Homo sapiens: one gene and its partner. The protein of the gene in region 2 interacts with the protein of the main gene of each other region in a pairwise test. Each region holds a gene or a part of one and is shown on either strand. Other genes may lie near its edges.

Region 1 (4,051 bases), on a different chromosome or scaffold from region 2:
GCTCTGCTCTCCCAGGAATAAGAGTTTAGATTTGCACAGAGACTGGTATTCCGTTCTTTCGGCAGCCTCCAGACCAAAGCCTCCGGCCTCCATCCAGGCCTCGTCGTGACCAAAGGCAGACATCGCTTCAGGTAGGTTGCAGCCAAAATGGCTTCCAACGCTCAGCCTGAGCCGCCGGACTTCACGCCATGCTCTACTGACGTCGGCTGACGGCCATTGGCTTCACACCCAGGCCTGGGCATGGCCACGCCCCCTCGGCCCCCTCCTGGCAGCTTGCACTGCGCCTGGTGTTCAGCGCAATCCTATGACCACTCGAGTGGGGTCATGGGGTGGAGAGAGGGATGGCCACTGACCGTGTCAGAGGGAAGTTGGGGTCAGCGTATGGGGAAAAGCACGGGCTAAGTGTAGTGTAATCACAGCAAAGGGGTGGAGGTGGGGAAGATTGTTCTCAGTAGTTCCGTGACCCTCCAGGAAGAGGAAATAGGCAAGAGATCGCTAGGCACATCTGAACAAACTGATTTATTAGAGTGTTACAGTGGGGGCTCCCACACAGACGGGCACCAGAGCGAGGTGCTCAGCTCCCCTCATCTCCCTCAGCCTCCACAGCCTTCTGGCTCTCCTCCTCGCCTTTCCGCGTAAACTCCTCGATGACTATGTCCTCAGAGCTTGCAGAAGCAGCAGAAGAGAATGGAAGGTTAGGAACCCCTTTCTGGGTGTCCTCCGTGTCCACTCTTTTTTCCTGATCCCAGAAAAGTGATCCCCTCCCTGCTTCCCAGGTAGGCTCCTCGGCCCCCTCTTGGTGTCCCCACTTTTCCATCAGCCACTCTGGCTTGTTTCCTTTCATTCCCGCCCAAATTTCCCAGCACAAAAGTCCCCCAGGAGCACTGAAAGGGACATAAGGATGAGGGATGGGAAGGAGGGAAGGTATCAAAGAATGAAAGACGAAAGAAGTAAGGGCGAGCGGGTGGGGGAAAAGGAAAAAGAAAAATGGGAAGGGGATGAGGGGGAAGGATGATTCCAACAAGAGCAGAAGGTGGAGGGCGGGGGGATGCAGAAAGGGAAAGGAGGGCATATGAAAAGCACCGAACTGTGACACGAAGCTAAGCCATATGTTTCCACTGCACATGTATTGAAAGCACCCCAAGGAAGCATTTTCACATTTCTATCGTCATAACATGGAGGGTGGAAATGGGAAGAGGGGAATGGGGCTTCCCAATCTTGTATTCCATTACCTAGCGGCCTCTGTAGCAAGCATGGAGACGGAGGGAAAAAATGGAGCTGAAGCTGATTAGAGGCTCTTCGGTTCCCTGAAGAAGTATCTTTACTTCCCCCCCCCCCAACTTCCCAATCCTTTGCTCCAGCACACACGACACACACACTTCCCCTGAATACCTAGACACCCAGCCTACCTATTGCTATTCCATCCCCAGGCAAACTGCTAGTCTCCAATTCATGAGATCAGAATGGTTTGGACCCCAGCCCTCAGGACAGCCGTCCCTGTGAGTTCCACCTGGTCACTCACCATGAGATGGCTTCGGATGGATCAGGACCAAGGGTAGCTCCACACCAACATCGCTGCAAGGATCCCAAGGTGGAGTTACATCTCCTCTCTCTACAAGCCCAATCCCTGAACCTCCCTCCCTTAGTTTTCCAGTCTTTGGATGCCCTCAGACCCTCCAGAATCAATCATTATTTTGCTCTCCTTATCCCCTTGTCCTCCTCTTCTTGCCCAAGTTCCCCCACCCCACAGTCTCTCACCTGGCTGTCAGGTCTCCTAGGATGCTGTGGGTAGAATGACACCCAAAATTAGCAGCGGGAAATAGAGAAGGGGCAACCTAGTTTCACAAGGGGATGAGGGATCATAAGACCTAATGAGCCAGCCACAGAATGGGTTTCTGGAAGGGAAAGTGACTTGCTCACTGAGCTCACAGGTTTGGGAACCTGGTCTGGGAGAAAGGGTGGGGAATGGTTTGATTGGGTCAATCTAACTGGGAGAAAAACAGAGGCGAAAAGCCCTTGACTCTTCAGCCCCTGCCCAGACAGACCCAGAACCCTCACTTACCCACCACAGGACACCATCAGGTTGACTCTGACTTTGTAGGACACCAGGATCCCCAGCAGCTCTTTGTCCATTCCCGGTCTAATACTGGAGGTTGTAGTATTCGTTTTAGGGTGTTTGGGGCATGAAGAGTAATTCATTCTGTCCCCAGTTTCTTCTCATGCATTCCTATCACCACACCCTATTATGTTTAGTCTTATCCCAGAATATCTCCCAGGCTCTAACCTTTCCTACCCGTTGAGACCACATTTCTCTTCCTGACATTCACTTTTACCATGTCACTCTCTGCTCAAGAGCCTACCTTTTGAATATAACAACTACTCTGCCTGACTTTCAAGACCCCTAACAACCTTGCCCTATCTAGCCTCTCTAACCTTTTCTCCCCTAACTCCTGGGATACAACCTAAGCAGACCCATCTTCTCTCCGTGATCAGAACATGCCATGTGGATTCCCACCTTCTAGCCTTTGCCCATGCTGTGTCCCTAGTCTACAGTGCTCCTTTTTTTCCTCTGTTGGTATCCAGATCCTTCACATTCTTCAAGATCTAGCTCATTCTACCTCCTCCAGGAAGCCCTCACCAGCTCTCCTGGCTTCTTTTAACTTTGTTGCGATTTACTCTGAACCACGTGTACTAACATTTAACTGTTGGGTTGTATTTGCATCTCTCTTCGTTCCTCATCTAGGCCATAAATTGACTGAAGGCAGAGACTGTCTTAAACTTCTTTATATTCTCCACATTGCTTAGCATAGGAAAGAGCATGTAATAGGGGTTCAGTAAAAAACCCACTGATTGAAAAATAAGACAGCGAAAGCTGCATGAGCTTGAGAAAATCTCTTCATTGCTCTGGGCTGCTGATCTCTTACATATAAAATAATGCAGTTTGGATGATTTCTAAGGGTATTTCTAGCAATAACAGTCTATAGCTACTTGATTGAAAAGACGTATGGAGAGATGGAGGGATTACACTTGACAGATGGTGGCAGGTGGTTTTTGGTGGAAGACACATCTAACACTAGGGCCTCCGAAGGCACAGGACCAAGTGAATGACTTCCTAGAATTCTATTAATTCCTGTTGCATCATTTTCCTTTTTTGTCCTCCTTTTCCTCCATTTCTCATCTCCTAGTCTTCTACTCCATCTTTATTTTTTCTAGAGAGTAGCTTCTGTAGAGATCACAGTATTCAGAGCCAGATGACATGTGATATAATCCTGTCTACATCTACCACTTATCAGCTATGCCACTTTAAGTGAGTTCCTTCTTCTCTCTGAGCCTCAGGGTCCTTAAGTGTAAAAGGGAATAAGAACACCTGTCCAGGCTACTTTAGTGGGATTCTCACAAAGATAGCATAGTACATATGTCGGACCTTTGTGAACTGTGAAATCTTATACAACATAAGGATTGTTTTCCTCTCCATGTTTTCCTTTTTTTCTGCCGCTGACCTAAGCCTGCCGTTGGTCCCACAGGCATTATTGAGCTTGCTGCAGGCCTTTAGGCCTGGAGGAGTCTCTGAACACTGCCCTAGAGACACTTTAAAAAACAGGTAGGCTTTACTGAACATGAAACCTCAGAGCTGTAAATGTAGCATGTGGAATGGTTGAGGGGTAGGAAATGGAGGCTGAGAGTTATATTTGAGCTTACATTGTGCTAGAGGCCAGGTTGGTATCTTCATGCTTAAGTTTGCCATCCAGTGCCAGGCCCCGTTTCTGGCAGCTGGCAGCCAGGATTGGGGTTACTGCAAAGCTCTGGGAGAAGCTGGAATTAGCAGCTACAGTCTCCCTACAAAAGAAGAACAAGAGAAGAATTTAGGCTGGGCTTGCTGACTAAGCATACTTTTACTCCCAAGAGTATCTTGTACAAGATTATACAAGAACCTACTGGAGTATCCAAGAGAGGTAACATGTTTAACTGAAGACTGGGAGAAATTAGTTCTGGTGGGAAATCCTTATGCCCCTGCCCTCGCTCAGCATCGTGATGGGACTCCTGGGGGTAA
Region 2 (3,997 bases):
AAGAGCTTCCGCCTGAACTCCCACCTGCTCTCCCACCGGCGGATACACCTGCAGCCGGACAGACTCCAGCCGGTGGAGAAGAGAGAGCAGGCGGCATCCGAGGACGCGGACAAGGGTCCCAAAGAGCCGCTGGAAAACGGCAAGGCCAAACTGAGCTTCCAGTGCTGTGAGTGTGGGAAGGCCTTCCAGCGGCACGACCACCTGGCTCGGCACCGCAGCCACTTTCACCTGAAGGACAAAGCCCGGCCCTTCCAGTGCCGGTACTGCGTCAAGAGCTTCACGCAGAACTATGACCTCCTCCGCCACGAGCGCCTGCACATGAAGCGCCGTTCCAAGCAGGCTCTGAACTCCTACTGAGCCTCTCCGCCTGGGGCGGCCTCACCCTGGCTGGTGCTGCCCCCTCACCTTGGTACTGATCAGCGCCCCCACCCAGGACATACCTTCCCCAGGATAGAGAGCACACCTCCCTCCTGTCCTTGCTCTCAGGTAGTGAGCGTTCGGGTGGTGCCATGGGAGCACTCTCCCTCCCCCAGGTAATGAAAGAGTGGCCAAGTGAGTGTTCTGTTTCTGCTGTGCCAAAAAACGGGGGGGATGTGCCATCACCAGGTTGGACATGCCAGGTGTTCTGCGTCTTAGAGACCCTTGGCCCATGCTCCCCAAGCTCGGGGAGTAAAACTGGGCTATCCCCCGTCAGGGCGGCACCCTGGTCACCAGCCAAACCTCAGTATACTCCCTCCCCTCCTTCCCTGTCTGAACGCTAGGATCTGCTCCTGAAGCTCCAGGATGCCTGCACTTCCACTGAGAAGCTGCTGGCGGATGTTGGACTAGAGGAAAGAAGAAGGCAGGGTGGGACTGATGGGCTCAGTGGGGAGCAGGGCCAGGCACACTGAGCCAGACATGTCATGTCTGAGCCCCAGATTCGTGGCCATCAGGTAGGCAGGAGCACCCCGCAGATCCAAGATGATCAGGCAGCCCTTTTGGGCTGGCCTCTGTGGCAGGGGTCTGCAGAGCTCCTTCTTGAGGTTTGGAAACAGTCGTCATACCTGTTGATTTTCCTGGGGGCCAATCACTAGGGATCTGGAGCTCACCAAAAACAAAGCTTACATTTTAATTTGTGTTGCACACCTACCCCATAATGTCTTTATACCCCAAAGATCCTTGGTAAATGCTTGTGGGTTGGAAGCGGAGTTGTCATCGTTTAAAAGGCACTTAAGTCCCTTCTTCCAATCTGTCCTGTCTAGGAATGTGGAGCTCTGCCCCCAGTGAGGGGTTCTCCTGTCTGGGTGAGCCAAGCTCCAGAACAGAACCTTGCCTGACAACACACTTGATAGATACATTAGCTTGGAGTGCTGGTGTGTCCAAACACTGGCTGGCTTAGAACAACAGGAGTGTATTCCCTGACAGTTCTGGGAGGTGCACGTCCAAGATCAGGGTGTCCTCAGAGTTGGTGCCTTCCGAGAGCTGTGAGGGAGAAGCGGCTTCATGCCTTTGCTGGCAGTTGCCATTCCTTGGTGTGTGGAAGCGTCACCCAGTCTCTGCCTTCATCTCCACATGGCACTCTTGCTGTGTGCGTGTCTGTCTCCAAACCTCCCTTTGTTTAAGGACACCAGTCATATCGGATTAGAGCCCATCCCACCGACTCCAGTATAACCTCATCTGTATCCGCAGCAACCGTTTACCAATAAGGTCACATTCTGAGGTACTAGAGGTTGGGACTTCAACATCGGAATTTGAAAGGGACAGCATTCAGCCCATGACTCCAGATAAACGTGAGGTATGCTATATCATTCCTAATTTACAGATGAGTCAATACAAACTTGAGTGAGCTTGCTCACAATTCCATCAAAGGCAGGGTTCAGACCCAAGTTTCAGCATTTAGGGCAGGTGTCCTCTGCATGGAAGAATCATACTCAATAGCCGTAAACGCTGACAAATTCCCCTTCCTCCCTGCCTTCTGATGGGGGCTGGGCAGGCCAGCTGGAGCTGTGTCTCCTGCTGGGATTCCGGACTGAGAGTGACAGCAGGTAGTGAAACCTCAAGCAATTTAAAACATGGTATTGTTCCTGGAAGACTGGTTATGTTGGCTAGGGTCAGCAAGAGAGGGCATCAAGGCTGTAGTCTAGCAGTGATTTAATCTGCAAGTCAAACCAGACGGGTATTTTGTATTATTCATATGTCACATCCTACCAACAGACAGTAAGTCAGGCAAGGCTCCTGGTGCTCCTTGTCACTCACGTAATTTTCACATCAGGAAAACTCTGGGCTGGGTGCAGTGGCTCACACCTGTAATCCTAGCACTTTGGGAAACCAAGGTGGGTGGATTGCCTAGCTCAGTGACACCAGCCTGGGCCACATGGCAAAACCCCGTCTGTACCAAAAATGCAAAAAATTAGCTGGGTGTGGTGTTGACGTTTGCGGTCCCAGCTACTCTGGAGGCTGAGGTGGGAGGATTGCTTGAGTCTGGGAGGCAGAAGTTGCAGTAAGCCGAGATCATGCCACTGCACAAGCTAGGTGACAGAATGAGACTCTGTCTCAAAAATAATTAAAAAGCCTCTGCCCCAAACTCGTTAAAAGATTTTATAACCACAACTGCTGTTTCTGTGTAGATGCATCTGCATGCCCAGGAGCAGTAAATGCAATAAAATCATTTGGTTATACTTTGAACACAAAATAAACGGTTGAGGCTTTTACTTTCTAAATAGTTTGTCTCTTGTATCAACATAGCTGGAAAAGGGAGAAATCCGATTTTTAAGGCCAAGGGAGGGGAAAATTCCAAGTAGAAGCCAGGCTCTCTGTACACGTTTACCCCACCTACCTGTGTGCTCCTACCTGTGCTGAGGATTCTCTCTGTAGCTCTAAGGTCTTGGGAAGGTTATTCACCTTCCTGCTTCAGACGTCTGACTCAAGAGAAGAACACTGTTCTACTTACCAGAGTGTTTTTCTGTGTAAAACCACATCATGAAGGAGAAAGCGACAAAGGGAATGTGAGGGGCTGGAAGCCACAGGGAGGCTGTCTCTTGAGTCCCCACCACTGATCCAGAGCCAACCAAGGCACCTCAGGAAATGGAAGGCCACATTGCCTCTGGATTTGGAAATCCTCCTGGGTAATGTAACTGAAACCCAGGTTGATGCCATGCAGCAGGAGCAGCAGGGGGAACGTGCTCTCAGGAGAGGTCGGCCAACCCTCCAGCCCAACACCCTTCACCACAGTGGTGGAGGAGGCTGCACCCAGGAGATCTTTGTCTCCCTTTTGGCCACTGATACCTTTGGCCTTATCTGACAACAGCTACCCCTCGATCCTTCCCTCCCACCCCAGGGGCTGGGCAGCTGGCTGGAGCTTTGTGTCCACCTTGCTCTGGAGGTTGAGACCCCCATCTGAGCAACATCCTCTCTCTTTGTTCCTCTGATCCCTTGGCATCGTCACAAACCCACAGGTGCATAATAAAAACTTGCTGAGTCAATATTCCTGTTAGGCTTTTCATTTTCATTTAAAAAGTAAAATGTGGCTGGGCGTGGCAGCTCATTCCTGTAATCCCAGCACTTTGGGAGGCCGAGGCAGAAGGATTGCTTGAGGTCAGGAGTTTGAGACCAGCCTGAGCAATATAGTGAGACCCCATCTCTAAGAAAAAAATAGAACAATTAGCCTGCCATGGTGGCACATGCCTGTAGCTATTTTGGGGGCTGAGGTGGGGGAAGATCCCTTGAACCCAGGAGACAGAGGTTGCTGTGAACGGTGGAGGTTGCTATGAACGGTGGAGCGCCACTGCACTCCAGCCTGGGTGACAGAGCAAGACTTCATCTCAAAAAACAAAAAGTAAAATGTGAAGCACAGCCAAAACATGTTTTCTAAGACCTGCAGGCTTTAGATAGTTCTGGTCACCTGATCTGGCCCCTCCCCAAAAGAAAGAAGAAGAAATAACTGTTTCATACGCTGGGAGTAGATTGTACTCCTGGTCACACCACAGCTTTAAGCCAACCTTAGTCGTTTTTCTCTTTT

Evidence for each region. Proteins that work in one complex are often made in the same cells at the same time.
Region 1: the proteins of ZNF496 (region 2) and ARR3 interact in binary tests that used the Homo sapiens proteins (3 or more experiments, as listed by UniProt).

Annotation. Positions count from the first base shown.
Region 1 is NC_000023.11:70,278,290-70,282,340, reverse strand, and holds the end of ARR3 (arrestin-C), read right to left. Parts: intron 3,838-4,051; coding exon 3,700-3,837; intron 2,147-3,699; coding exon 2,063-2,146; intron 1,783-2,062; coding exon 1,759-1,782; intron 1,576-1,758; coding exon 1,523-1,575; intron 1,243-1,522; coding exon 1,233-1,242; intron 666-1,232; coding exon 575-665; 3' UTR 501-574; downstream 1-500. Other genes in the region: RAB41 (ras-related protein Rab-41), read right to left, coding at 1-123. UniProt on the Homo sapiens protein: May play a role in an as yet undefined retina-specific signal transduction. Could bind to photoactivated-phosphorylated red/green opsins.
Region 2 is NC_000001.11:247,296,879-247,300,875, reverse strand, and holds the end of ZNF496 (zinc finger protein 496), read left to right. Parts: coding exon 1-357; 3' UTR 358-3,461; downstream 3,462-3,997. UniProt on the Homo sapiens protein: DNA-binding transcription factor that can both act as an activator and a repressor.